Homo sapiens: one gene and its partners. The protein of the gene in region 3 interacts with the protein of the main gene of each other region in a pairwise test. Each region holds a gene or a part of one and is shown on either strand. Other genes may lie near its edges.

Region 1 (10,003 bases), on a different chromosome or scaffold from region 3:
TGCCACTGAGCCTCACCCCTTTACTCACCCAACAAATAGTTAATGAGGAGCTACCCCGAACTCCCTACACCCCCATGCCCTCCGAAGCTGTCTACATGGGCTGCTCTGCCCTTGGCATGTGCCCTTGAGGGCTGATCTCACTTGGCCACACATGGGTTTATGCTCTAGGATTTGAAAGAGAGAATTCCTGCTCTTCACCTTTCAAGCCTAAGCCTTAACATTTCAAGGGCTGCTTCTTCCTCTGGAATAACTTGCTTTTTATTGGTCATTCATGATTTGGGTGAAAAGATGGAGTCTGTAGTTCTTGCTTAACACAAAGGGCTTGACTTATATTTCTTATAGTGTTGTGGGACATCCAGCCACAGGCATGAAGAGAAGGAGCAAATAAACAGTACCCTGAACCCAGAAGTTCTTCTTGGCTGCCCCCTTCTCCATTCTTCTTGTCTCGCTCTTGGGCCTTTCTTCTCTTTGCCACATTTACTGGCATGAAATGAATTTGAGATGTGAGCTTCAGTTCTGAGTCAGACTATATATCAAGTTGTGCCAGCAACAATAAAGGATGGTTTTCACCTGACTTGTTGAAACCATTCCACCTGGCATTACACCCACTACGAATGGGCAATTAGCAGCAAGAGCAAAAGGTGCGACCTCATGAGCAGGGAGAAACAAGGTGGCAGAATTTCAAAACCAAGGTCTTCCGTATTCACTTAGAGTTACTGTACATGGTGGTATAAAGGCCTCTCAGTAGAAGCACTTTGTTTAGTTCGGCTAAAAATCAGAGTATCTTAGTGTTAATGTATCAACTAAATCTTTATGATTTGGGTATATGATCTTTATAAATTGAATTTTATAAGTGCTCTCCTGATAAAAAAAATTATACAGTTCATTCACTAAGAATAAAATTTACAAATGAATATCCCCTGATTTCACTTTGTAATAAATGTACTGAACCTGAATTACTCATTTAGTGTATTTCCATAAATCTCACACAAATAAAACAAAAACGACAGAATCTGTACAAAAATAAGAGCTCTCCATTTTTTGTAACACCTTATTTTTTCTGTATATGAATTTGTTAATATAAAAAAATCTACTTAGAAAATTATAAAAACATCACTACAGTGTCATAAGGCTGTACATTCTCTAGGAAACACATCTTTAGAAATACAACTATTAGGAACTCGTAATGAAATTCAAGTCCTGGATGTGCTGCAGATGCATCCCAATAATCAGGGTGGCCTCAAAACCCTGTCTGTCCTCTGTAGCACTTTTAGAAATGGCCTGCGACATTCACTGAGTGAGACTGAATTCTTCTTTCTTCAAATATCACCATTGATTTCTGTGGATATCCTTAGGGTGACACTCTATTTTTAAAAATGAAAGAGAAAGGTTTAAAAGAAGTTAAACAATCCCAGCGTTGACAATGACATTTCCAACAGCTCTGCACCACCTAAGGAATGATCTCACTATGGTTTGTGCTATGCTTGAGTCAGGTCCTAAAGAATTTTCTTGGCTTTCTATATCCTTTGAGCTAATAATTCACTTGTTTCAAAATGTAAGATTTTTCCTGTGGACAAATCTGATATAGTCCCATCTTCTATCTGCTTTGGGAATGTTTTTTGAACAACACACTTTTATTTTTTATTTATTCATTTATTTATTTATTTTGAGATAGAGTCTCGCTCTTGTTGCCCAAGCTGGAGTGCAATGGCATGATCTCAGCTCACGACAACCTCCGCCTCCCGGGTTCAAGTGATTCTCCTGCCTCAGCCTCCTGAGTAGCTGGGAATACAGGCATGTGCCACCACCCCCAGCTAATTTTGTATTTTTAGTAGAGACGGGGTTTCTCCATGTTGGTCAGGCTGGTCTCGAACTCCTGACCTCAGGTGATCTGCCCGCCTCGGCCTCCCAAAGTGCTGGGATTACAGATGTGAACCACCACACCTGGCATACTTTTATTTTTAAAAAAGATATATTTACTTTGTATTATTTGGAACTAGTAAGTGAGACCTCCTAAAAGAAAACAACCAGGATACATGACTATTAACATCAAACAGCAGAGGACATATGAAAATCTCATTGGTGGGAGAGCTATTAAAGATGCCTCCCATTGGGAATAAGCTAACACATGAAGTTGCACAATCCTTACAGATTTTTCTCAAACACATTAAGGATAAAAAGAAAGTGCTCTTTTTGCAGTGAGCCGAGATTGCGCCACTGCAGTCCGCAGTCCGGCCTGGGCGACAGAGCGAGACTCCGTCTCAAAAAAAAAAAAAAAAAAAGAAAGTGCTCTTTTTAAAAATGCAAAATGTCTTCTGCAAATTTTTACTAATCCTAATTGTCCGCAATTTAAAACATTTGAATTGATAAACACCTACCTGGAAATCTTGGATGAAAGTTAGGAAGTAGAAAATAAAACCAAAGGCCACTGTCCATTCACAGATCGCACTCACTACGTGATATACATAATCCTAATGCAATAATAAAGAAACAGAATTTAGCCGAAAAAGACTCACTTTAATGTACATACTGAAATACAATGAGGAGTTTCAACCAAAGGAAAAAGCTGTCCAGTGAGCATAAGTCAGAACTTTGAGGATATACGGTAAGCACAACCACGTTACTAAGTGTCAGGGCACCTGCCCACTGAGAATGCGAAGGCAGGTATTCCAAAGTTCTTTCTGGCTCGCACAAACTCTTGTTTTAAGATTTAGTTTGTCACTTCAAAAGGTAGACTAAGGACTGCAAAATGGCTGAGACTGGGAAGCAAATTTGGACTCAACAGAAGAAAGAAATTTCCATACAAGGCATGACTTGGTCTCGCTCTGCTGAGAATCCCTAAGTGTAAGGCTATGCTTAACAAGCACTCTCGCAGTTGTTCCAAAGAAAGTGTGTACACATCTAGATGAACTTGGCCAACTAGTCCCCTAGGTTTCGTGTTTCCCTGTTTATATAGAAATGATCATTCAGGAAATAGTTCTGCTTAACATCCCAAGGTAAATACAGCTACAAAGAAAATGCTAATAATGGACATCCACATGTTAACTGTATATCTTCTTGGAGGCAAGAATGGGAGAATGGAAGCCAAGGAGAATGGCTTCAATCAGATGTTCCAAACTCAGTTGCCTATGGAGGCCAGAAAATTAACAATAATAAATAAAACTGATGGTTGTGAAAAGAGAGGGAAGTTAGGGAGCCCACGCCTCATCAGCTCAATTCCATGGGAAAATAATACACTAGTGTTGCTTTCAAAGGGGTTTAAAAAAACAAAACCGTGTGTGTGTGTGTGTGTGTGCGTGTGTGTGTCTGTGTGTCTGTGGATGTGTCTGTGTGTGATATCTCCTGATTTTTCAGTGCTGGAAACTAATTTTAAAACTCTGTTGCAATGGCTCACACCTGTAATCTCAGCACTTTGGAAGGCTGAGGCAGGAGGATCACTTGAGCCCAGGAGTTTGAGACCAGCCTGGGCAACATAACGAGACAAAAAAAAATTAGCTGGGTGGGGTGGCCTGCGCCTGCAGTCCCAGCTACTTGGGAGGCTGAACTGGGAGGATCACTTGAGCCTGGGGGATAGAGGTTGCAGTGAACCATGATTGCGTCACTCTACTCCAACCTGGGTGACAGAGCAAGACTCTGTCTCAAAAATAATAATAATAATAATAAAATAAAAATAAATAAAACTCTGAGTCAAATATGCATGTCTGCATTCTGATGTTAGCTCACATGCCAAATGAGGCCTGGGGACTGTCAGTGTGCCCCCTCTGATTTCCTACGTCACTTTCTGCTCTGCTGAAATGAGCAACTACCCCTAACTCCCTACACCCCCATGCCTTCTGAAGCTGCATACATGGGCTGCTCTGCCCTTGGCATGTGCTGTTGAGGGCTGAGCCCACTGCTCTTCTACCCCAAACTGCTGTAGGCTACAAGGGTAAGTAAATGTGCTGGATCACAGGGCAGCTCCATGGTGACAGTTGTTTTCTTTGATCCTGTTTTCATCCAGACAGATCGAGTGGAGGCACACCAAGCCCTCCGAGCGTCACTCTTCACTCTCCTTGTCATGGTCACACTCACCCACTGTTTTCATGCTAGGTCACACCGAGGAGGACCTGACCAGCCTACAGTAGGAGATACAGAACAGAGGCTTCCTCCTTCTGGTACCAGTACCAGGGGACCTGCCACATCCCGTATCATCCCTGAACAAGGAAGATGGCTTCTAAAAATAAAGGCAGAACTTTGGGGGGAATTTCTTAAGCATGATATTAGTGAAAGTACATGGAACCAAGAGTCCTGAATGCAGGCAAAGCCCTAATATCCTTGCTATGTGAAATGAGACAGTGACATTATAATTCTCACCTCCCCCTACCAAGTAAGTCACTGCATATAAATGTGCTGTGAAAGCTGTAAAGCACTACACAGAAGTTTGAGGCAGTACCTAAATGATTATTCAGTGAATTAATGTAAAGGGAAATTTTTTTACATCCTTTGATATTAGGAACAGAAGGAAATGCAAGAGTGGCGCAGTCATTTATGGAGTGAATAGAAAACCATGTGCTTTTCACATTTTTAAGATAGAAAGTGGAATATAACAGATTTTTAACTGCCTGGGAATATACTTCGATAAGCCCTTCCCAGCAGCGGGTTTGTGATAGAAGGTCTCCCCCGAGTGGCTGAAAAGTAAAGTACACCTGAACTGCTCCGCTATGCGGTCTCACTTTCAGAAAGAGGTTCTCTCCAACGGAAAGAGGAACTGAACCCCCTTCGCATGATGGGGCTAATTCCCCATATATAAGAAAGAAAAAAACCTGCCTTTTGCCTAGGTCTAACCTATTGACGAATTTGACCATTTTAAGGTTAGATTTTAAAGAAGGCTTTTTTTTTTTTTTTTGAGATGGAGTCTCACTCTTGTTGCACAGGCTGGAGTGCATTGGCATGATCTCGGCTCATTGCAGCCTCCAGCTCTCCAACTCCTGGGTACAAGCAATTCTCCTGCCTCAGCCTCCCAAGTAGCTGGGACTACAGGTGTGTGCCACTACACCAAAAATTTTTTTTTTTTTTAGTACAGACAGGGTTTCGCCATATTGGCCAGGCTAGTTTTGAACTCTAGCCTCAAGTGATCCACCCGCCTTGGCCTCCCAAAGTGTTGGAATTACAGGCCTGAGCCACCGCACCCGGCCAAGAAGCACTTTTTGATCTCCTGTCTGGATCATTCTCTTCCTCACCATCTTCTGTCTCTCTCTTGTCTTGGCAGGCTTCCATTACCTGCCAGAGTTCTCCATATTGGGAAATCCTGCTGTCTCCTCTAGCCACCCTGGTGTTCCTCCTTTACCTCTTACCTCCAGTCCAGAACAGGACTCAATAAACATTTGGTTGATAGCTGAATGAAAGAACCATCCCTCTCACTATTTAACTTCTTGCCATTGGCTTCTAACCTCGGCGTTTTACTGAAACTACTTTTTGACAAACATCACTGACTCCCTTATTGCCCAAATTGAGGGACTTCATTCCTAAAGGCTATTCAGCTGCATATGCCATAGTTAGCCATTTCCCTTGCCTTTGAAAAATGTCCTTTAGTCTCTGGGATCGTATCTCCTCTCATTCCATCGTTAGGATTAATTGCTATTGCTTCTGCATTTCCACAATGTGTTGTCTGAAGTCCAGTTCAGCATTTTTTTATTCTTCAAAGTATTACATTTAGCCATTGACAACTGGCTGTTTGCCCCTCTGAACTATAAAATCCCTCAGGATCCTCTATCCCATGGCCACCCTGCCCTCTATAATCTTTCACAGTCTTGCATGTGGTAGGGACTCATCAATGAGGTCTACCATACAGCACAAGTCTAGTTCTTCTCTCTGGTCCATGATCCCTTTACTTCTCCTTTGCTGGAGGTATTCTTCCACCTGATCCTTGGGGGAAAGAATCCTCTGTCTCTCACTAACTCTCTTCTTTCCTGGGGCATCCTTGATTCTCCTATAAGGCGTCTAGATGAACCACTACTACAGGTATCTAACAGGATGGGTTGATCTCAATGTCAAACATTTGGTTCCATGTGTTCTGATGCTTGGTCCAAAATGTCCTGGTCTACCCCATACTCTAACAACTCTACCCTACACTCTGACGACTCCCAGTCCCACCAGAAGTCTAGGCCCACCGGAGTGCAAGTGATCCTTCCACCTCAGCTTCCCAAGTAGCTGGGACTACAGGCGCATGCCACAACGTCTGGCTAATTTTTGTAGAGGCAGGATCTTACTGTGTTACCCTGACTGGTCTTCATCTCCTGGACTCAAGCAATCCTCCTGCCTCAGCCTCCCAAAGTGCTGGGATTACAGGCATGAACCACAGCACCTGGCCTAGGCCCATGTTTCTAACCTCGATATCTCATCATATCCTCAGAATCATCAACTCTAACCAAACTCATCCACTTCCACCTACTAAATTATTTATCCCTGTTAGGGGCCTTATTTCTGGTCAAGGGAATAAATTCTTTGGTTCACCTAAGATAAAAACTTAGAAGTCATCTTTGATTCATCATGCCACTTCATTCTTGTGTTAATCATTTGCCAACACCCATCAGATTTCCCCTATTTGAAACGTGAACTAGTAGAACTGCCTTCTCCTTGCCCTCCTAATGCCAAGCTCTCCAAGCCATCCCAGGCATTGCTTCTGTCTAACACTCATCTAATAATACTCTTTCTATTTGCTTTACCGTTCGAAAGTCTGCAGGTTGGGCGTGGTGGTTCACGCCTGTAATCCCAGCACTTTAGGAGGCCAAGGAGGGCAGATCACGAGGTGCAGAGATCAAGACCATCCTGGCTAACACGGTGAAATCCCGTCTCTACTAAAAATACAAAAACTAGCTGGGCATGGTGGTGCACGCCTGTAATCCCAGCTAGTGCCTGTAATCCCAGCTATTTGGGAGGCTGAGACAGGAGAACTGCTTGAACCTGAGAGGCAGAGGTTGCAGTGAGCCGAGATCGCGCCATTGCACTCCAGCCTAGGCAACAAGGGCGAAACTCCGTCTCAAAAAAAAAAAAAGTCTTCAAAGTCTTACTCTGGTCACCTAGGCCAAGTACAAGCCTCTCTGCCTGCCTCTTACAGCCACTACACCCTTGCACAGTTATCCCCGGCTGCAGTGATTTCTCACTCTATCCTGAAATGAACTATCCACCACACTGGAGCTGGTATCATCCTCTCTACTTAACATTCCACGCTCCCTTTCACCACCAAACACCTTCATTCACACTGTCCCTCTACCCTCTTTTACTAAAGATAGATAGTTGAAGTGTTTAAGAAAGAAATTAAAGGCCAGGTGCGGTGGCTCACACCTGTAATCCCAGCATTTTGGGAGGCCGAGGTGGGCAGATCACGAGGTCAGGAGATCGAGACCATCCTGGCTAATACGGTGAAACCCCATCTCTACTAAAAATACAAAAAAGTAGCCGGGGGTGGTGGCAGGCGCCTATAGTCCCAGCTACTCAGGAGGCTGAGGCAGGAGAATGGCATGAACCCGGGAGGCAGAGCTTGCACTGAGTCAAGATTGTGCCACTGCACTCCAGCCTGGGCGGCAGAACGAGACTCTGTCTCAAAAAAAAAAAAAGAAAGAAAGAAAAGGAAGAAATTAGAGGGACGGGTGCGGTGGGTCACGCCTATAATCCCAGCACTTTGGGAGGCCGAGACGGGGGGATCACTTGAGGCCAGGAGCTCCAAACCAGCCTGGTCAACATGGGAAAAACCCTGTCTCTACTAAAAATACAAAAATTAGCCAGGCATGTGGCGCACGCCTGTGGTCCCAGCTACTCGGGAGGCTGAGGCACAAGAATCACTTGAACCCAGGAGGCAAAGGTTGCAGTGAGCTGAGATCACGCCACTTCACTCCAGCCTGGGTGACAGAGCGAGACTCTGTCTCAGAAAAGAACAAAACAAAATCAAAAATTAGCTGGGCCTTGTGGCAGGTGCCTGTAGTCCCAGCTACTTGGGAGACTGAGGCAGGAGAATCGCTTGAGCCTGGGACACAGAGGTTGCAGTAAGCTGAGATTGCACCACTGCATTCCAGCCTGGGCAACACAGCAAGACTCTGTCTCAAAAAAAAAAAAAAAGAAGAAGAAGAAGAAAGAAAGAAATTAGGAACTCAAAATTTTGAAAATACTTCCAGGAAGCATTTGGAATTACCCTGATAGCTAATTACTACATACTGCCAAATGATTGGACAGTAAATTGATTACATGCCATGTTTATTTGACATTTTGCAACTTGTTCTAAGGAACGGCAGTGATCTTCCCTATGCCTAGCCTGGCCACAAGCTCACATAACCACGTCCGACAACCACATTCACAACAACTTAAATGTTACCTTTTCTCTTGGATTCCACTCCAGCTTGGTTATGGAAATTAGTGAAGCACAGACAATCACTGAAAGAAGTAAACAGTTAAGGAAACTACAGCACACAACAGTTCCTTTAATGTTAAGACTACATTATTCTCCTAATAACATAATCATTATAAGGTGTTAAAATGTTAATACCAACATTTCTATCATCAATTAAAATGTTAATACCAACATTTCTACAATCAAACCAGTTATATTAGCTTCTTATAAACTCAAACTTCAAATTCAATGATGAGAGTTAAATCACAACACGGAAATACCTTCGCAATAGTTTTCCAGTGTGTATAGTAAAATTTATTAAAACTTGTCACTACATTTTGCACAACCCTACATGTTTCTGGATCTTCCCATTTAAACTAGCTGTTTAAATTCGGTCAAAATGACTGACGCAGCAGTCCAGGATGGTTCTTTTTGAATACTTCCCACTGAATAAAAATACTTTTTCCCTAAAATACTATTTTCCTTTCCTTTTTTTTTTTTTTTTTTTTTTTGAGACGTACTCTCGCTCTGTCACCCAGGCTGGAGTGCAATGGCGCGATCTCAGCTCACTGCAACCTCCACCTCCTGGGTTCAAGCATTCTCCTGCCTCAGCCTCCTGAATAGTTGGGATTACAAGCACCCACCACCATGCCTGGCTAATTTTTTGTATTTTTAGTAGAGACGGTGTTTCTCCATGTTGGTCAGGCTGGTCTTGAACTCCTGACCTCAGGTGATCTGCCCACCTCGGCCTCCCAAAGTGCTGGGATTACAGGCATGAGCCACCGTGCCCGGCCTAAAATACTATTTCCAAGGTAACAGCTTTAAGGAAAATTTTAAATTCCAAAGTGCCAAGGCTCATATACAAAAACAAGCTACAGAAACTCAAACTATTATCTTTAAAAAACAGACTTCTGTTGGGTAATTGGGTATAAGGTGAGCCCTTCCTTCCTGGACCAAAGATCTGGCAAATCAAAGAGATTCGCCCCATATCAGACTTCAGGGATGACTGACACATGCCTACAGTCCAGCCTAATAATGCCAGGGGCTGAGGCTCCTATCTTCCACCAGCAATACTTTCTGCATGAAGGCAGTGATAACCATTTTGATTGAACTTAGAATGCAAAAAAGAAAGCTAGAGAGAAATGGGATGCTCTAAAAAGTCTGCAAAATATTAGAAATTCAAAATGTTAGGCCGGGCGCAGTGGCTCACACCTGTAATCCCAGCACTTTGGGAGGCTGAGGCAGGCGAATCACCTGAGGTCAGGAGTTCGAGACTAGTCTGACCAACATGGTGAAACCCAGTCTCTACTAAAAACACAAAAATTAGCTGGGCATGGTGGCGTGCACCTGTAATCCCAGCTACCTGGGAGGCTGAAGCAGGAGAATCGCTTGAACCTGGGAGGTGGCAGTGAGCTGAATTTGCACCACTGCACTCCAACCTGGGCAACAGGGTGAGACTCTGTCTCAAAAAAAAAAAAAAAAAAAATGTTGAGCCAAGGAAAGTTTAGAGCCTCCTCTGAATTCAGAGTCAGCGTCATCTCTCTTAACTCCAACCCCCCGCAAATTGTGCAGAGTTTAATGCTTCTGATTCTCAAAATAAAAGAAGTAGAGAGCACAGAAGATTCTCTGATCATTTCATCA
Region 2 (10,003 bases), about 28 Mb from region 3:
GTAATATGCTTATTAGAAGTAAATGGTAACTGTTATCCTCAAATAATGGGTGGGCTCAGGTACACTGGTTACTAACCACTTAAGTTTAAGAAAGTGCTTCTTGAGTTTGAAATAAACATATGAGAAGAAAGTAACTCTTGAAAGATTATTTTATAGTAATTTATGAAATTCTCAAAAAGAGGTAATCACTAGGCCATGTTCCTAAAGGCTGATACGTGCTAACATTTATACTCTAAAATACATATTATTGCAAGGACAACATATTAATAGTACCCTAAGCCATATCATTATGTGACTTCCCTCTTCCCAAAGGAGAACTATGCTGACTTTAAAATACCACCTTCTGATAATCCACAGCGTAAGAATTACCTACTGCTAACAAAGAACACTTGAAAAGTAAAGCTCACTCTGGAAGCCCACGTGGACAAAAAGGATTTTCGTAAATGCATGGATAAAAAATCAAATTGTACAAATTGATATTTAAAATTCAGCATAAATTATATTTCATATGCAGATGCTAACAGACTGAGGAAATCTAAGGCTCAGAATGAGATAAACAGGATTTATGATCCACATTAAAATCATAATCTAACCATTTAGAGGAAGTAAATTATGTAACTACCCTCAAAAATAAATGCTACTGCTTTTTCTGCTTTAACAAATTTATAAAAATACTGGGGCTAGTTTATCTGGAAATGACTTATATGTTAAGAGACTTTCACATTGTAATGTTTACTATAAGGTAATTAACTTCTTAAATATGAAAATCTGAACTGAGAGAAGATACCTTCCTGAACTGAATCACATTCAACTAACATAAAATGTATAGATAATTTTGTAATTCAAAATATCAAATACCTCTGTCTTTCAGCTTTGTATGAGCTAGTAAGGTCATCGAAAAGCTTGCCATTCATTTCCATTAGGGTTTTCAGCACATTGTATACCAGTGCTACAATGGTCCTGAAATGAAAATGAGCCAGTCCTGAGTTATGATACTGCTAACAGAGAGGAAATGTAACACTATGGTCTCTAAAATGGGTTAAAGCTTGGCTGATTTCATTTAATCCATTTTAGAGATGATAAAACTGAGGCTCAAGAGGTTTGTAATATGCTCAAGGTCATACAGCAAGTGGTGGTAGAGACAGTCTAAGAAAACTTAAATCTTTTCCATTTTATCATGCTTACATTAAACTCTAGTTAAAAATGTTCACTATAGTTATCTTCATTTCTGCTTTACAGTCTCATGTCTGAAATCCTGAGTAACAACATTAAAAGAAGATGAAAAAGATCCAATTACCAAAACTTATGAAAAGTAGAAAGCCGGATAAGGATGTTAAAGAAGTTAGAATATATTACCCTTAGCACTTCGGCTTTCCCCTGGGACAGTGCCATTTATAGAGGGGAGACTATACACTGAGAGTAGACCAACACAACTCTGCATTAACGGAGTAGTTTGTGTATCCTCTGCAAATGTTCAGTTGGTCTCCCCAAGAGGGTTTGACCACAACCTCCAGGGAGATTTGCAATTTTAAATTGACATGAAGGCTGGGCACAGTGGTACATGCCTATAATCTCAGCACTTTGGGAGGCCAAGGTGAGATGATCACTTGAGCCCAGGAGTTTCAGTCCAGCCTGGGCAATATAGTGAGACTTCAACTGTCCAAAAAAAATAAAAATAAAAATTCGCTGGGTATGGTGGTGCACACCTGTGGTCGTAGCTACTCGGGAGGCTGAGGCAGGAGGATTGCGTGAACCCAGGAGTTTGAGGCTACGGTGAGGTATGATTGCACCATTGCACTCCAGTCTGGGCAACAGAGCAAGACTCTCTTTTTTTTTTTTTTTGGAGACGGAATCTTGCTCTGTCGCCCAGGCTAGAGTGCGGTGGCACAATCTTGGCTCACTGCAAGCTCTGCCTCCCAGGTTCATGCCATTCTCCTGCCTCAGCCTCCCGAGTAGATGGGACCACAGGCGCCCGCCACCACGCCCGGCTAATTTTTTGTAGTTTTAGTAGAGATGGGGTTTCACCGTGTTAGCCAGGATGGTCTCAATCTCCTGACCTTGTGATCCGCCCGCCTCGGCCTCCCAAAGTGCTGGGATTACAGGCGTGAGCCACCGCGCCCGGCTGTCTCTAAAAAAATTTTAAAAATAAATTGACATTAAGACCACATACTGAACAAACACACACATTTATAACTTGATAAAGGTATACGTATATAAAATACAGAATAGAATACAACTGATGTTAACCTTGGAGTAACTTCCAAATCTGTAATAGGTTTCAAGTATGAGTTAGGAAATCAATAACAAAAAGATATAAAAAAAAAAAAAGAAAAAAATACGACCTATATAAAAGATACTTACGGATTCCAGTGTTCTTTGGAAATTTTGTACAAACTGGCAAACATAATTGGCAGAATTTTATCAATGTTCTCCTCAATCAAACTAAGAATATATTCGTTATTCCAGAAGTACAATGCCCTTTCTGCAACCTAAAAAAAGACATTTAGAGAAATGTCAAAACTAAAATAGGAAAGAAATACTAGTGTAAAGTAAAGGCTTCACTGAAAACATCATACCTGAAAATGAGAACTGGATACACACTTGGATATCTGCTTGAAAAGTGGCTCTTCAATTTTTTTGAACTGTGTTGGTTCAATGACATCTAAGATTTCTTCAATTTCTCCTAAAAACATCACCTAGGTTAAAAAAATTTTATTTTAAGAAACATGATAAATTATGTGAAACTAATATAGAAACCATACAAATGAGAAGGTTAATCTGCATAGTATACAATAAGCAAAAAAATGTCTGGATGGCAGAGTTTACTATAGCACAGGTCTTCTACCAAGTCTGTGTACATCTCCCGCTCTTTAGCAACAGCAATACAGCCAGCCCAAAGAAGCATGGTTTATAGCCCTGGGATTGACAAGTTCTAGTAAAATGCACTACATTTAGTGAACAAAACCCACCTCTTTCTGACTGCAGGTTTTTGGCCAAAATTTCAGCAGTCCTCTGATCACCTGCGAAAAAGAAAAAGTTTAGCATGAATTTAATAACAAAGCTAGTTAATCCCAGCGTATTTTCCATAGCTGTGATTATATCAACACTCATTCTGAAGTAAATCAATATTGCTTAATATATGTGTATAAATAGACTTTCTGCTCAGCTTTAGAATTTTATTAATTCAACTAACATTTACTGGGTGCCTATTATGTACCAGATACTGTTCTAGATGCTAGGGACACACTGATGTACAAGACAGATGAGGTCTCTGGTTTTCACAGAGCTTACGTTCTAATGGAGGAAGACCAATGCAAGTGATCAATTAAACACATAAATAAAACAATTTAATAGTATGTGCTACTTCTAAGAAAATAAAGGAAAATATAAGTTGGTGGGGTGAGAGAGGGAGGTTATTTTAGGGAGAAACCTTAAGGAACAGATGATTCCTGTTATTTAAACCATTATGAAACACAAAAAAAAACCCTGGACAGCTTCTCAGTCTATTTCATGGCTAGCACAATCTTTATAACCAGAATACAATGAAACAAAAGAGACTATTTTTATTTATTTATTTATTTTGAGATGGAGTCTCACTTTGTCGCCCAGGTTGGAGTGCAGTGGTGTGATCTTGACTCACTGCAACCTCGGCCTCCCAAGTTCAAGCAATTCTCTGCCTCAGCCTCTCGAGTAGCTGGGATTATAGGCGCCCACCACCACACCCAGCTAATTTTTGTATTTTTAGTAGAGACAGGTTTCACCATCTTGGCCAGGCTGGTCTTAAGCTCCTGACCTTGTGATCCACCAGCCTCGGCCTCCCAAAGTGGAGACTATTTATTTAAATAAACAAAGTTGAAAACACTTGCATTAAACTGAATCACAATAGAAGAATGCTATATGCCTAATTGTAACTTATTCCAGAAATGCCAGGATGGTTCCATTCATAGGTTAAAAGGGGAAATAAAAAAAAAAAACCCAGATCATTTTAAAAGATTTTCAAGTCATTTGACATTTTTAATTGACTATATATTCTGATAAAAAAATTTAGTAAGCTAGAACTAAAAGAATTTATCAGAAACCACCAGCAATCATTCTACATAATGATTTATTAGAGACAGGCTGTAAAACCATCTAGGCCTGGTGGTTTTGTGGAAATAGATCTTTGACAGCTTTTTAGGTTACTTTATAGTCTGTCTGGTCCAGTAATGTGGAACACTAATTCAAATTAAAATTGGGAAGGATACTGTTTTGGAGACAATCCAGTAAGATAACAATGTGATGAATAATGTTGGAAAGGAATACCAGAATTACACTTATTTGTGTAACTGTATATTTATATATCCCTTAAAACTTAAAAAAAAACCCTGCAAGTTACTAGAGTGAGTAGGAAAATTCAGTATGTGGCCACATTAAAAAATACATATATAAAAATCAATACCTTTATAAAACATCAGTAAAAATCAGATGAATAATAAAAAGGTACTTTTCACAACAACAACTATAATGTGCATAAAGAATAAATTTGCAAGAAATACTTAAGACATATGGAGAAAAGCATAAAACTTTACTGAAGATCATAGAAGACTACAAATACAGTTATATGTCATTTAATGATGGGGATACGTTCTAAGAAATGTGTCATTAGGCAACTTCATCATTTAAATGTCACAGGGTGTACTTAAACCTAGATGGTATGGCCTACTACACACCTAGGCTGTATGGTGTAGCCTTTTGCTCCTAGGCTACAAACCTGTACAGGATGTTCTTGTACTGAATACCGTAGGCACTGTAGGCAGTTGTAACAATAGTATTTGTGTATCTAAACACGAAAGGTACAGTAAAAATATAGCATTATAATCTTATGGGATCACCATTTTTCTTTCTCTTGGAATCACATTTCTCTCTCTCTCTCTCTCTCTCAACATTTCTCTCTCTTTTTGATGAGGCCTCACTCTGTTGCCTAGGCTGGAGTGTAGTGACATGATCAGAGGTCATTGTAACCTTGAACTCCTAGGCTTATTGTAACCTTGAACTCCTAGGCTTAAATGATCCTCCTGCCTCAGCCTCCCAAGTAGCTGGGACTACGGGTGTATGCCACCACATCTGGCTAATTTTAATTTTTTACTTTTTGTAGAAACGAGGTCTTGCTCTGTTGCCCAGGCTGGTCTTAAAGTCCTGGCTTCAACCAATCCTCCTACCTTGGCCTCCCAAAGTGCTGGGATTACAGACATGAGCAACCATGCCCAGTTCCATTTTTATTTTTTAAGAGACAGTCCAGACTTGCATTGTCGGCCAGGCTGGGGTGCACTGGTGTGATCACAGTTCACTGCAACCCCCTAGGCTCAAGAGATCCCCCTACCCCAGCCTCCCAAGTAGCTGGGATTACAGTCCTGAGCCACCACGCCTGTCTGGGACTGACATTTTATATGTAGCCTGTTATTTTTATTTATTTATTTATTTTTGAGACAGAGTCTCGCTCTGTCACCCAGGCTGGAGTGCAGTGGCACGATCTCGGCTCACTGCAACCTCTGCCTCCCGGGTTCATGCTATTCTCCTGCCTCAGCCTCCTGAGTAGCTGGGACTACAGGCGCCCGCCACCAGGCTCAGCTAATTTTTTGTATTTTTAGTAGAGACGGGGTTTCACTGTGTTAGCCAGGATGGTCTCGATCTCCTGACCTCGTGATCTACCCGCCTCGGCCTCTCAAAGTGCTAGGATTACAGGCTTGAGCCACAGCGCCCGGCCCGTAGCCTGTTATTAAACGAAATGTCATTATGCAGCACATGACTGTAAATAAGTGAGGTGGTTCAATATTGTGCAGAGATATTTTTCCTGTACTTAATTTATAAGTAAATTTAATATAATTTCAATCAAATGCCAATTGAATTATTTTTTGGAACTAGAAACATTTATTCTAAAATCCATAAATATAAGCAAATAAGAATTGTTTTTTTGGTGGGGGGAGTTAATGGAACAGAACCTGTATTATGGATATCAGCAACTAAAACAAGATTATATTGGCAAAGAAATGGAGAGAAAAGATATATATGAGTATCTAGATATACTCATGTATATATGGATTTTAATATATGACAAAGGTGGCCTTTCAGTTCCATGGGAAACAGTGGTGGTACTGGGACAGGTAGCTCACTATTTAGAAAGGAAAAATGTAGCAGGCTCCTTTGGTTGGCAGACTTCTATGATGATCTCATGAGCTTGTTAACTGTCCTCACACCCTTGTGTAATCCCCTCTCCTTAAGTGTGAGCTGTCCTAGTGACTTGCTTCTAACGAACAGACTGTGGCAAAAGTGAAAGAATGTCACTTCATGAGTAAGATACAAAAGATTGTGACTTCTGTCTTACTAGTAGACTCGCTGTCTTGGCTTTGATGAAGTAAGGTGCCATGCTGGAGAAGCCTGGGTGACAAGGATCTGAGGGTGGGCTCTGGCCAACAGCCAGCCAGGAACTGAGGCTCTCAGTCCAACATAACTTGACAAACTGAATTCTGCCAACATACATGTGAACTTAGAAGCAGATCCTTCCCCATCTGACACTTTATATGAGACTCAACTTCTGGCCAACACTCCAACTGCAGCTTTGTAAGAGACCCTGAGCAGAGGGCCCACCTAAGCCATGACCAGATTCTGGATTCACAGCAACTAAGGCAACAAATGCTTGTCATTTTTCCTCCCAATGGAATGGTATTTTCCCAAAATCTTGCAGATCAGTTACAGCAAACAGAACTATGACCATCAAGGAAAACTGTCACTCTTGGCTTCTTTTTGACCACAGCAGCTACATGGAAGCAGCTGCAGCTTTGATAAAGGCCATAAATGCTTGCTATTTTAAGCCAATAAATTTTGTGATCATTTGATATGCGTAATTGAAAATGAATGCAGGCCAGGCATGGTGGCTCAGGCCTTTAATCCCAGCACTTTGGGAGGCCAAGGCAGGCTTGGGCCCAAGAGATCAATACCAGCCTGGGCATCATGGTGAAACCCCATCTCATCTTTACCAAAAATACAAAAAAATTAGCTGGGCATGGTGGTGCATGCCTGTAGTCCCAGCTACTTGGGAGGCTAAGGCAGGAGGATCACCTGAGCCTGGGAGGTCAGGGCTGCCGTCAGCCACAATCGTACTACTGCACTCCATCCTGGGTGATGTGGTGAGATCCTGTCTGAAAAAAAAAAAAACCCAAAACACAAACAAACAAACCCAAATGTAGTTCCTTACCCTCATCATACACAAATTTCAATGTCGGGCAGTATTGAATAACGAACACTGGGTTGACTAGTGGCCCCCAAAAAGATGTCAATGTGGGCCAGGTGCAGTGGCTTACAACTGTAATCCTAGCACTTTGGAAGGCCAAGGAAGGCACACTGCCTGATCTTAGGAGTTTGAGACCAGCCTGGGCAACATGATGAAACTCCATCTCTACTAAAAATACAAAAAAAAACCTAGCCGGGCGTGGTATCGGGCGCCTGTTATCTCAGCTACTCAGGAGGCTAAGGAACAAGAATTGCGTGAACCCAGGAGGTGGAGGTTGCAGTGAGCCGAGATGGTGCCACTGACTGCACTCCAGCCTGGGCAACAGAGTGAGTCTCTGTCTCAAAAAAATAAATAAAATATAAAATAAAATAAAAATAAAATAATAAAATAAAATATAAAATAAAATAAAAAAGAAAAATAAAAAAATTATTTTGGGGCTCAAGTTAGATTTTCTTGGAATAAGAACGGTGTTTTGTTTTGTTTTGCTTGTTTTATAAAAATGCAGCTTTGAGTGGAAGGAAAGGTTTACACTGCCAAAAAAATAAAAGTTTTGAAAGTCATGCCGACTCTTCATTTTTTTCCTCTTTACATGGAAACTTAGCTGTAATGAATATTTAGTTAATTCTTCCACTCTGCACTTTTTTCTTTTTAGACGGAGTCTCACTCTGTTGCCCAGGCTGGAGTGCAGTGCTGTGATCTCGGCTCACTGCAACCTCTGCCCTCCTGGGTTCAAGCCATTCTCCTGCCTCAAGCAATTCTGCCTCAGTCTCCCAAGTAGCTGGGATTACAGGTGCCCGCCATCACGCCCGGCTAATTTTTGTATTTTTAGTAGGGATGGGGTTTCATCATGTTGGCCAGGCTGGTCTTGAACTCCTGATCTCAGGTGATCTGCCTGCCTCAGCCTCCCAAAGTGCTGGGATTACAGGCTTGAGTAATAAACTAACAAAAGCTCTGAGCTACTTATAATTTGTAGAAAGCTTTGATAGGAATGCCTGCTTTCCAGAAAATTAGTATTAAGGCTTAAACCCAAGTAATATGGCCGTAATTTTGGTGCTGGAATGGCCTATGTTAGAAATTGCAAGATCTCTATATCGAGAGATCTTTATGAGTTGGAAAATATTTTCCTTTCTTAACCTGGGTATTTATCTTACTCTCTCTCCTCATCCTGCTCCTATTTTCATTAACCCAACTCAGCCAAACCAGATAAAAGCTGAATAACTGGCCATCATCCCTCTCCCTAATCGTCAAGGTTTTTTGTTTTTTTGTTTTTTTTTTTGTGTCATCTCGGCTCACTGTAACCTCCGCCTCCAGGGTTCAAGTGATTCTTGTGCCTCGGCCTCCCTAGTAGCTGAGATTACAGGCACACGCCACCATGCCCAGCTAATTTTTTTTTTTTTTTTTTAAGTAGAAATGGGGTTTCACCATGTTGATCAGGCTGATCTTGAACTCCTGACCTGAGGTGATCCGCCTGCCTCGGCCTCCCAAAGTGCTGGGATTACAGGCATGAACCACCATGCCCAGCCTCTATCTTCCATTCTTTAAAAATAAATCACCTGTCTTCCTTATCCACCCCAAATTAATTAAATAAAATTTTATTTGTATACTATTTACCAAGCATGAACCATGACTTTTCAATATGTGTTATTATGGGTTTTCTTTTTCTTAATTCTAATGGGAGTTATCATAGATTTGTATTAAGGTTTTACTTTTTTCTTTTTTTTTTTGAAGACAGAGTCTCACTCTGTTGCCCAGGCTGGAGTGCACTGGTATGAGCTCAGATCACTGCAACCTACGCCTCCTGGATTCAAGCAATTCTTGTGCCCTTGCCATCTGAGTAGCTGGGACCACAGGCCTGTGCCACCATGCCCAGCTAATTTTTGTATTTTAACTAGAGACAGGGTTTCACCATGTTGGCCAGGCTGGTCTCAAACTCCTGGCCTCAAGTTATCTGCCTGCCTCAGCCTCCCAAAGTGCTGGGATTACAGTTGTGAGCCACTGCACACCTGGGAATCAACTTCAGAGGTTTATGTGGTTTCATGTACAAATATATGGTTTCTAATTCTCCTGAATTGTCTTCAAAAACTGTTTACAGCTGTTTCTAGAAAAGACTGTAAATCTAAAAGTCAAAAAACTAATAAAAATTAAGGAGTGGAAAAATGTCTTTTGTTCCATTACACAAAGTTCAAGTGAAAGGGAGAATACTAAGTATATGATTTTTTCAAGCATCCCTACGGATAGCCTGAGAAGGTTCATAATATAGTAAAAATACATATATATTTTAGTTTTTCAAACCCTTTGCTATTTACTAAATATTTATTAGGTTGCTGCTAAAGTGATTGTGGTTTTTGCCATTAAAAGTAATGGCAAAAGCCGCAATCACTTTTGTACCAACCTAATACTAGGTAAATATTTAGACTGAACATGCCTAGAAAGCATTCTCTCAAAATACTTACTTCACCAAGGTTAAAATGTTTTCTATGCTTTTATACTTTTCTGTTTCACCCTACTTCATCTTTTGTTTTTCTTGAATCCTCAGTAAATTTTCATAACTAATTATGTTTTCACTCTCTCCTGAATTTTCATTCTAGAGGCAAATAACAGTAGAATTCAAAGCCTAAGTTGCCTTGCTGGTTCATAAACTACTTTTATTCCAAGATTACATCTTATATCTTAATCACCAAAAGCAAGGAAATGTTTTCTATCCCTATCAAGTGGTTTATTGTTAATGAGTGGCAA
Region 3 (10,409 bases):
ACTGTTGTGTGCTCATTTCTATGTTTATCCTAGCCCAGTTTACCTCCAACCACTCTTGTCATAATTGCATAACCACAGCATGTCATGTTGTTTCTTGTTGCAACTATAACTTGTAAAATTAAACTTCAGAACCGAGACAGTCAAGCTAAATAATTGCCTACTTTAAAAAATATGTATGTATGTAATTTACATGCCACTTCAGATAAGCTCTTGAATTATGATCTCTGGAAGTCAAAACTGTCACCATTATTTAAAATATAGTTTCACTGTCGCAATCTTTCTTGTACACAAGCCCTATCCCTGTTTTTTCAGTTTTCTAAGCAGTACTTTATACTGGTCTATTGCAATCTGCTTTTTGTGTTTTATGAAGAACCCAATTAAGCATAATTTTTATTTACTGCATGCTACGGGACTTTTAAAATTGAGGCTCAAAGAAGGACCATAAAGTGGCCAAAGATGTATTTGTTTGCTAAAAGCCTATTCATAAAAGTATCTTTACACAGTAAAGCTGGAAAAAAAAAGGTCATCTGAGTACCCACCACGTACATTGTGTAGGGTCCTCCAACCTGTATTATATATCATGTAACCCTTCCCTCACCTTGGGAGGGAGGCTTCACTATATCCATTTCCAAAATAGTATTTTTAGGAGATGTATATTTTCATGAAGACTGATCGACCCAATATCTCTGAGTGAATTCTGATTGACTAGATGTATAAGTAGATTTACGTAGTCAATATGTTCCTAAAAAACTGGAGGCAAATCAACTTTCACATACAAATTATTTTCATGTAAACTTGCATTGTAAGATCAGACCTGCCATACCCTCACTCCTGATTGATAATCAGCACTGTGCTGCTCAGAGCACTTGCTGGAGTCTGAAGCTTACCCATGTGTACATACCCTTTCCTAACTCTTTGATGCGTCTGGATTCCATTCCACCCATGAGGAGGTGCAGAATGAAACAGTTTAAATCACCTGAAATGAGCAGTGACCACACTCTAAGATACCAGCTAAACATCAGGAGAGAAAATACAAACAAAGCAATGCTCTCTCCTCTCTTTATATTTGGTTCTAAGAAGCTGGAGGAAAACAAAGTATCATAAGACAGTGAGGTTTCACCAATTTCTCTGTTAACTGGCAGTATCCTACAATCTCCCTCCGGAATTACTGTACGATTACCCTTTAGTTAGGGCCACCCTCAAAGTAGAGCTGGAAGGAAACTTCAAAGGATACAGAACCCCAAGACCTCTGTACTTAAACATGTGAGCTACACAAGATGCCTCATTATATGGCTGTAAGTTGTATTGATAAATTCAAATGAAGACAGTCATATTTATCACCTTAGGACTCTTCTGTAAATATGTCACCTGCCTTCTCCTGCCCTATTGGAAGGTGACATGACATTCCCTCTCCCAGCCTTTGGTGTCTCCTTTAGACAAAAACAAACAAACAAAAAACAAAAACAAAAAAACGTCTTATAGAAGGGGGCTGCTTAGAGCCTGGAGCAAGCCACTCAGAATGTAAAACTCAAAGCTTGCCTGGTCACAAAGGCAACACAGTACTGAGGCATGATTCACTTGGAAATTATAATAGAGCAAACCACCTTCCTCCTTAGTAGGATTTTTGAATAAGTCATAGCAAATAGTACCAAAGCTCTTGAATGATGCCCTGTGATTCTTCAAGAATCAAACCCCTTCAGACAGTGGCCTATTAATTCCCAGAAACCCATGTTGAATGATAAAGTGAGATGGGGCGGAGGAGGGATAAATGTCTAGCCAAGAAAACAAAATTATCAGTTTTCTAAACTCGGAGTTAAATTAAGTCAACCCTGAGAAGGAAAGCTGGAACTTTAAGGTCCTTCTAGGATGAACTTTTAACACTGGAGGATGTGAGACCTCTCTACCACCCAAGGCCATTTTTCTTTGGAAACATGCCCAGTTGTGACAAAGCTAGACAACAGAAGCACCCCGCCCCTCCTCAGGCACCCACCCACCCAAGAGCTGAGCGCACTGGTCTTTGTTGCCCTTTTTAGAAGCCTCCAGGACTGTTCTCTGAAGCAGGTTTGCACAGCAGTAAACATTGAGTGACATCCTCTTTCAACGCTGCATTTGTGATCTGTGAAGTACCAGTCCCAGCATTGGTTTAACGCCTATAAATACACTCCGTTGTCCTATCACTGGTACTTCCTACTTTGTAAGTAGCAAAACAAAAATAGGTGATCCAATCCAAATTAATTTCCATGTCTGACAATTACATTTCCAAACAGCCAACATGGAACATGTTCTATTGATCCTACAATCCAGCTCTAGACAATATGAAAAAGGGGGGAAAACTCCAAATTCAGCATCTTGAACTTAAAAGACCCTTCAGAAACATCACCTTCTCCCCACAACAGTGCTGAAGTAGCTCAGGCCCACTCCACCTATGTTTGTTTCTATCCTGGTACATTCCAATTCTATCAAATCAAAAGGTTATTCCTATTAGGCAGAAGCTGAACCCATCCCCTTGAATAGGGAGGTGTTCATTACATCTGTCTGTGTAATGAACTTGTCATTTCCCCAAACGGTCTGGACAGTCTCCTACAAAAAAAAAAAAGAAAAGAAAGAAAAAAATACTCCATGGAATCTATGGTGTGTCAGTCCCCTTCCTAACATCTGAGTCAGACTACGTGTGTCTTTACTGAGGTTCTGGGTGCCCAGGGTGTATCACTTTCAGAATTGCTTCAGTAACTGAACTATGGCTGTCTTCCAGCCACGGACAACACAAGCACTATCTATTTTAAAACAATTTTCCTAACCCACCGGCAATGGAAGAGATCCCATAGGTCACCGACTTCCTATTGAAAACAAATTATTTCTCTCTCAAACTGCTTGCCGTCTCTCAGAATTAATGCGTGTTTATGTGTGCATATTTTTATCTTTGGCCATGCAACTCTTGGAGCAAAGAGGACCACCCCAAATTTTACCGACATGCCTGAGCCATTCAGAGCTTTAGAAGAGAAATGAACGAGTGCTGAGAGCCCTTAAGCCCAGGACTTCTCTCACACAAACAGTAAGTGGAAAGGAAAAAACAAAAACAAAAACAAAAACTAACCCTCCGTAGAGGGAGGGAGCAGGGTGGATGATAGGGAAAGGACATTAACCAGCAGACCAAAGGCAGCCGCGGCGGCGGCACTTCGCGAACTGCCTGCAGAGGAGAGTGAAATCTGTTTCGTGTACAATAACCAAGCACCCTCTGGCTGCCTCGCATGGGCACGAATAATAAATACACCGAGGTGGGCAAACAGATGCAACGAAACGAGCCACCCCAAAAAGGTCAAAACTTCAGAAATCCCGGGGGTCAAACCACCCACACAAACACATCAATCAGTCGGAGCGAGAGAAGGGACTTGGATACTTAGCAAAGGATCCTAAATTGTGTTTTTCCTTTCAAGCTCTGGCTTGCAAAGTACGGTGGCTACATGCAAAGCTAGAGGAGAGCAGGAAGGCTGAGGGCGGCAGGGTGCGGGTGGGAAGGGAGGGGTGTCTAACACCAGCCACCCAGGCCTCGATGTGACGAAAGTCGTCAGCAGCCCCGACCACATCCCAGCCCCTCCGCCCAGGCCGGCAGACGCCCCTCGCGGCTCCCCCACCCCAGCTTCCGTCCCTGGCAGCAACCCCGCCAGCCCCGCACCAGCAGCAGCCCCGGCCCGGGCCCCGCGCAGGCAGCGCCACGACCGCGGCTCCCATCCCTTCCGTGCGGCAGACACCCCGCAGGCCTCCCTCCCTGCCCACCCGGGGATGCCCGGGTAGCCGAGCCGGGGCGGGCTGCACCGCCAGCTCCCCCCGCCCCAGAGCAGGCAATGGCTCACACTTACCTTGGGCGTTCGCGGGGGGGCTGAAGGTGGCAAGCCTCCCGCCCCCCGCCCCTGTCCTCCTCGTCTTTTTTCTTCCTCCCTCCTCCTCTTCTTCCTCCTCCTCCCCACAGTGTGTCCGGGGCTCCCCCTCCTCCCCGCCGCTTGGAGTAAGAACCCAAAACCCCGAAGCCGGGCCCGCGTGCAAGCGTGCGGGAGGCGGCGGCGCGCGGCCAGCTCTCCAGTAACTGAGCGCGGCGCGCAGCTCCCAACTAAAGTGTGAAAGAAGCAGCGGCCGCGGCGGCCGCGGCACGGAACGTCCCCCCGGGAGTGGGCAGGGAGCGAGCGGGAGCTTGCGAGGAGCGAGCGAGGGAGGGGAGCTCCTCGCTCAGTCACTCACTCGAGGGGCGGGGGCAGCAGACACTCCCCCACCGCCGGCCCCTCCCCGAGCCTAGCTCCCGCGCGCGCCTGGCTCTCCTCCCCGGGGCGGGGCCTGCGGAGGCCGCCGGGGCGCAGCGCGCTGGGGAGCGGGTTGGGGGCTGCTAGGGCTGCGGGGCGGGAAGGAGGCGGCAGTGTGTGTGTGTGTGTGTGTGTGTGTGTGTGGGCAGGTGTGTGTGTGTGTGTACGTGTGTGCGCGCGCGCCCTGCAGCGGCCGGCCAGCCGGAGGGAAGACCCCGGCGGGAAGACTGCGTCCCGTCCGGCCTTCCCGGGCCTGTCACTTGGGCGGTGGCGTGGGAGCGGCGAGGCTGCTCGGGGGGCAGCCGGGTGGGCCCAGCTCTAGGGGAGATTCGGGTCAGCCCCTGAGCCCAGCCTCCCGGCTGTGCCTGCTGGAAGCAGACGGAGGGAAGGCCGGGCGTCTTTGGCCCACCGCGCGGCCGCTCCCCTCCCGGGCCAGGCTGAACGGGCGGGCGCAGCCCAGAGGCCCGGGCTCTGCCACCGATCCGCCTCCATACTGACCCGAGCTGCGGCGCCTGCAAGATTAATGAAGCATCCGCGATTCGGTAGAGGCGGCACGGGGAGGAAAGACACAAGATCGTGCTGCCCCCCTCTCCCCACCCTTCTCAGCCTCCTAGGACCTAAAGGCGTAGGCTGCGTCTGCTGGGCGCGTCCGGAGTGGTCCAGAGAGATCGCCATCCACCACTGCATCCGTCCAGTTCTTTGTGGACCCTCACAGAAGCTCAATCAATTTCCCACCCTCTGGAAAAGGGTATTTTTCTCTTCCCTGGCATATTGGGTGTTTCTTGTGTGCACCTAATTGATCTTTTTCCATTGATAGCCTTTGGATGTCTTTTGTGCGGCTTCCCCGCGCTTCACTGCTCCCTCATTGCCTTAGACACGCGAGGAATGTCAGGCCCCCAGAGTGAGAACACCCAAGAAAACAATAGGGGCAAAAGATCCTCCCTGGGCCTCGCGGATTATGCACAAACCAGATCATTTCCCACATTCGGCCAGGGTGAAGATGGAAAATGGAAAAGAACGCCATCAGAGTGGTGACACTGACGAGAAAAGCCAATTCATAATTTAGTTTAATGAAATGAGTTAGTAATCAACCACTAATGTCTAGGAAATTGGCCTTTTTTGAAAACTGGTTTTCCCTTTCTCCACCCCTTTTTTTTTCAAATTAAAAGACTAGTATCCCACTGTTGTTGTTTTAATTTTTATTGTTTTCAGGGATGGGGTCTGCTGCCAAGGCTGGATTCGAACTCCTGAACCCAAGAGATCCTCCTCAAGGGATCTTCCCCATCTCAGCCTCCCAAGTAGCTGGGACTACAGGCCAATTCCACCGCACCCTGCCTAACATCACATTGTTCAGGAACCTCAACTTACATTCCATTTTTACAAAATATCCATATTCTGGTTCATACTTCTTGGAGCCCAAATTTTTTGTAGTCTAGCCTCTTGGAAAGGAGCGGTTAAGAAGGGAGGGTAGATAAATTGAGATTTCAATCAGGGGCAGCCAGCCCCATCCCTTTCACCACTGGTGACTTGTTTCATTTCTTCTTTCTTTCCTCATCTGTAAAGGCATTGATAATGATCGTTCCTACCTCATAAGCTTGTGAAAGTAAAAAGAAAATAAAACGAGGTGGCAATGCATGTAAAACACTTTGCATAGTGCCTGACACATGGGTGAGAACTCAATAAATAGAAGCTATTGTTTCAGACTTGATTATTTTAAACTCAAATTTGGTAGAATTTTATTCTCTTTCCATTCCTTCTGAAAAGTTAGGGAGGAGAATGGACACAGCTGATGGATTTATTCAAATGTAGTCCACTCTTCCCTTGGGTTTTTACGCCCTGCCTGAAACTTTTGCCTGTGGTAAAATGAAATAAATACATAACTGAGGGGTGTGTGTGTGTGTGTGTGTGTGTGTGTGTGTGTGTGTGTACATCCATATAAAAGGATCTTTGAGCACAATAAGTTTTGTTCTTCCCCCTCCTTTTTCCTTCTCTCATCTACATAGACCACCCTGAATAGACAGAGCTCTGTGATGTTGACCTGTGTACCCCTTCAGGGCTCAGACAGTGCTTGGTACTGTAGATTTCTTGAGGGCAAGGCTATGGGGTTTGCTTGGCTTGATATCCTTAGAACTAACCGAAGGCCACAGAAGAAGCACTTCATACATGTGTAGATGAAAGAACATCTATACTACGAACTTTTAAAGCTAGGTTTAGATTACTCAAGATAATACAGGTCCATTGTGGAAATTTTCAACATTTGAAAAAAGCTAAGTACAAAGAAAATGAAAATCATAATTCCACCATCTAGAGAAAAGCATTCAATAAGTGCCTCAAGTTTGTCTGTTTTCCCTTCATTTATTTCATCATCATTCAATCAACAAACATTTATTAAGTACCTAGTTAGAGATCAGACAATTTACCAATACAAGAAAAGATTGTATATGTGTTGTAAGTGTTGTTTGTTTCTCATAGAAACTGCTCCACAGAAGCAACATTTTATACAGTAGTAAGGTTCTCAGGATAGCCTACAAAAGCCCATGGAAGGAATCCCACAATTAAATGACCATGCTGACCAGAGACAATCCAGATTTTGTGGGACTTGAAGCACTTAAAATTTGGGGAGCCACCTTCAAGATTAAAAAAGACAAAAGTACTAAAACCCCTTAGGAGAGGCTAATGTAAATGAAGGTCGTGAAACAATTTGGGGAGCTACCTTCAATGTAAGAAAGACAAAAGTACAAAAACCCCTTGATTGGGCTCATGTAAATGAAGGTCTAAGCCCCATTTGCTTTTGAGTAAACCTACTCTCTCTGGTGCTGGAATTTCTATAGAAATTAACTGCTTTGATAAACATTGCTTCAATGTGAAATGTTCCTCATTTTACCTGGGATCCCCGGGACACCTCTGCTCCCCTCCCCCACAAATTTAGAAGAGGTGAGAGGGAGACTCCCATCACCACCAACACACACTTCCCTGCACCTGGCCACAGCAGGGGCAGTGGGACTGGGGACTTCTATAGGGGCTGCAGAAGGAAAGGAGGGAGAGAAGAACAAAATGGGAGGGGAGGGGACAGACAGGTTGGCCACTAAGGTGCTGGAGAGGCACATCGGGCATTGGTATGCACACCAACTCACTAACTGTGCAACAGGAGTGGCCACAAATTGCAAATCTGCTTGGTGTGCACAAGCTAAATCTACTAGACATTTTATCACAGAATAATCTCTGTAGCTATTTATAATTAGTAAGATGACTATAAGCATATTTACATAAAAAGAATGAAGAACATGATTTTTTTCCCCCTGGTTGCATCACCCTTCCACACCACCAGAATCTCTGGATTCCATATCTTCAAACACTCTAAATATGATTTTCCAAAAATTTAATATTCTTTTTGCCCAGAAAAGTTACATTTTAATCTTCAAAGGCACCACTCTCATTATCAATTTTCTCTTAGTCCTAAAGCTTTAGCTGATAAAGACTTGCATCTGTAGGACTGTACATAACATAATGGTTTGAATTATTTCTTTCTTCTTTTTCTTTTAAATATGATATGCCCTTCCATGGGCTTTTGTAGGCCAAACTGAATGTTTGAAGCCCTAACCCTCAATGTGTTGGTATTAGAATGTGAGGTCTTTAGGAGGCAATTGGAGTTTGACAATTTGAGAGTGGGGTCCTCATGATAGGATTAGTGCATTGATAAGAAAAGCCAGACAGCTTGTTCCCTCCCACCCGCATATGAGAACACAGCAAGAAGACAGCCATCTAAGCCAGGAAGAGGGGTTCTACCAAGAACCTGAGCAGGCTGGCATCACGATCTTGGACTTTAAGCCTCCAGACCTGTGAGAAATGAATATCTTTTGTTTAAACCGTGCAGTCTATGGTGTTTCGTTACAGCAGCCTGAACCCACCAAGACAATAGGTTCCCTTTATCATTGATTGTCAAGGAAAATATATGATTGTTTAAAAGATAGTAAAAGCAACACACCACTCTCCTATAACTTCTCATCTAAATCTAAATGAATTCATTTTATGTGGTTTATTTTTTAAAGGTTTTCCCATAAAGTTAATTTTTCTGAATAATCAAGTTCAAAAGTAGCTTTGGCAGAGACATTCAAAAATAAGTGACCCTAAGCTGAAGACTACTCTGAAATGTGCTTTCTTTCCATTTGCTCCATGCAATCACAGCTAACACTGGTTGTCTGCTGTATGTCAAGCATGGCATCATGTAATTCATAATACAAACTAACTCATCTTCCTGACAACACACTCAGATAGATGCTAATATTATCATCATTCCCATGCAGATGTGGAAACAGAGGCACGGAGGGGTGAAGTCATGAGTGCAAGGTAAAGTAGTTGATTTTCATTAGTCAGATGCCAGAGCCCATGTGTTTAACTGTATTTATTTATTTATTTATTTATTTATTTATTTATTTATTTTTGAGACAGAGTCTCACTCTGTTGCCCAGGGTGGAGTGCAGTGGCGCGATCTCGGCTCACTGCAGCCTCCGCCTCCTGGGTTCACACCACTCTCCTGCCTCAGCCTCCCGAGTAGCTGGGACTACAGACGCCCGCCACTATGCCAGGCTAATTTTTTTGTATTTTTTAAGTAGAGACGGGGTTTCACCATGTTAGCCAGGATGGTCTTGATATCCTGACCTCATGATCTGCCCATCTCAGCCTCCCAAAGTGCTAGGATTACAGGCGTGAGCCACTGCACCCAGCCTTAACTGTTAAGAAGTATGTTTTCTCTTCAATCTCCTCTGTTTTTCTGCCTCAGTTTTACTCGTCTTTCAAGACCAGGCTCAAACCCTAACTCCTAAGTGAGTGATCTCAGCTTCTGAGTTTCTGAACTTTTGAAGTATCCAGGATCTTCTACAGCCTTACACTGTTAGGGATCTTCCACATCTTTTACATTAGCTCCACCAGGCTTGATTTTGTGTGTGTGTGTGTGTGTGTGTGTGTGTGTGTGTGTGTGTGTGTGTGGTGGGGGGTGTTTAAAATCTTCCTTTGGGGATACCACAGCACACACACAAGTAAAGGACCCAATAAGCAGCTGTGAATGGAGGGCTGTCTATGCATTTTTATTTTATAATGGTGCCACTTATGGTGACGCAGCTCCTTCTGGATGGTTCCAGGCTAAATCAGAGCAGAGTTTAAAGTCAGTGCTAACAACTTGCTAATGGTTCTAATTGGTCTTTCAATGATGTGTGAATTACTCTGAGTAACCAGCTTTTCCAGACCTTAGATAGCTCTTACTTTCTTGTTTATATCTGTTATCTGTTTATTTTCTTCTTGGCTTTCTCCTTAGGGGTTTTTTTGGTTTGTTTTTTGTTTTGTTTTGTTTTGTTTTGTTTTGTTTTGAGATGGAGTCTCTGTCACCAGGCTGGAGTGCAGTGGCGCGATCTTGGCTCACCGCAACCTGTGCCTCTTGGGTTCAAGCAATTCTCCTGCCTCAGCCTCCTGAGTAGCTGGGACTACAGGCATGCGCCACCATACCCAGCTCCTTTTTCTATTTTTAGTAGAGATGGGGCTTCGCCATGTTGGCCAGGAGGTCTTGATCTCTTGACCTTGTGATCCTCTTGCCTCAGCCTCCGACAGTGCTGGGATTACAGGCGTGAGCCACTGCGCCTGGCCTGTATTCTCTTTTATGTCGTTTTCAAGAGTTGGGTAGATAGAAGATGAGAACATGGAACATTTTCCCTTGAAGTAAGGAGTGTAAGAGCCCATCACCAGAGTAAGACTCAAAATGAGGCAGAGGGAAGGTAAATCCAGATACTATTAAGCGGTCAGCAGAGCCTCTCAAGGTTGCCGGCTTCCCCCCATTTTTGCTTTCTGGCCTTTGTTTCACCCAGATATTGAAGTTAGCATTCCAGTGTAGAGCTCTTTTCTCCCAGGCTACTTGACAGCCCCACCACTGTGGGTATAACTGATGAATCCCCAGACGCTCAAGTCATCCGGCCCTTACTGATACCTGCTTAGAGTATTATTCCGCTGCCAGCTTATACATGCTAATAGTATTGTTATTTCACACACTGGCCCTGTCTCTCCAATCAACTATAAGCTCTATGAAAACAGGAGACCTTGTTGTTCTCACAGGGCTCAGGCTCAATATAC

The links.
Region 1: the proteins of C1orf21 (region 3) and DRAM1 interact in binary tests that used the Homo sapiens proteins (3 or more experiments, as listed by UniProt).
Region 2: the proteins of C1orf21 (region 3) and PPP2R5A interact in binary tests that used the Homo sapiens proteins (3 or more experiments, as listed by UniProt).

Annotation. Positions count from the first base shown.
Region 1 is NC_000012.12:101,912,577-101,922,579, reverse strand, and holds part of DRAM1 (DNA damage-regulated autophagy modulator protein 1), read right to left. Parts: intron 8,407-10,003; coding exon 8,348-8,406; intron 2,472-8,347; coding exon 2,379-2,471; intron 1,365-2,378; coding exon 1,320-1,364; 3' UTR 1-1,319. UniProt on the Homo sapiens protein: Lysosomal modulator of autophagy that plays a central role in p53/TP53-mediated apoptosis. Not involved in p73/TP73-mediated autophagy.
Region 2 is NC_000001.11:212,349,643-212,359,645, reverse strand, and holds part of PPP2R5A (serine/threonine-protein phosphatase 2A 56 kDa regulatory subunit alpha isoform), read right to left. Parts: intron 6,829-10,003; exon of another isoform or gene 6,696-6,828; intron 3,021-6,695; coding exon 2,970-3,020; intron 2,697-2,969; coding exon 2,577-2,696; intron 2,490-2,576; coding exon 2,362-2,489; intron 961-2,361; coding exon 859-960; intron 1-858. UniProt on the Homo sapiens protein: The B regulatory subunit might modulate substrate selectivity and catalytic activity, and might also direct the localization of the catalytic enzyme to a particular subcellular compartment.
Region 3 is NC_000001.11:184,380,817-184,391,225, reverse strand, and holds the start of C1orf21 (uncharacterized protein C1orf21), read right to left. Parts: upstream 4,198-10,409; 5' UTR 3,858-4,197; intron 1-3,857.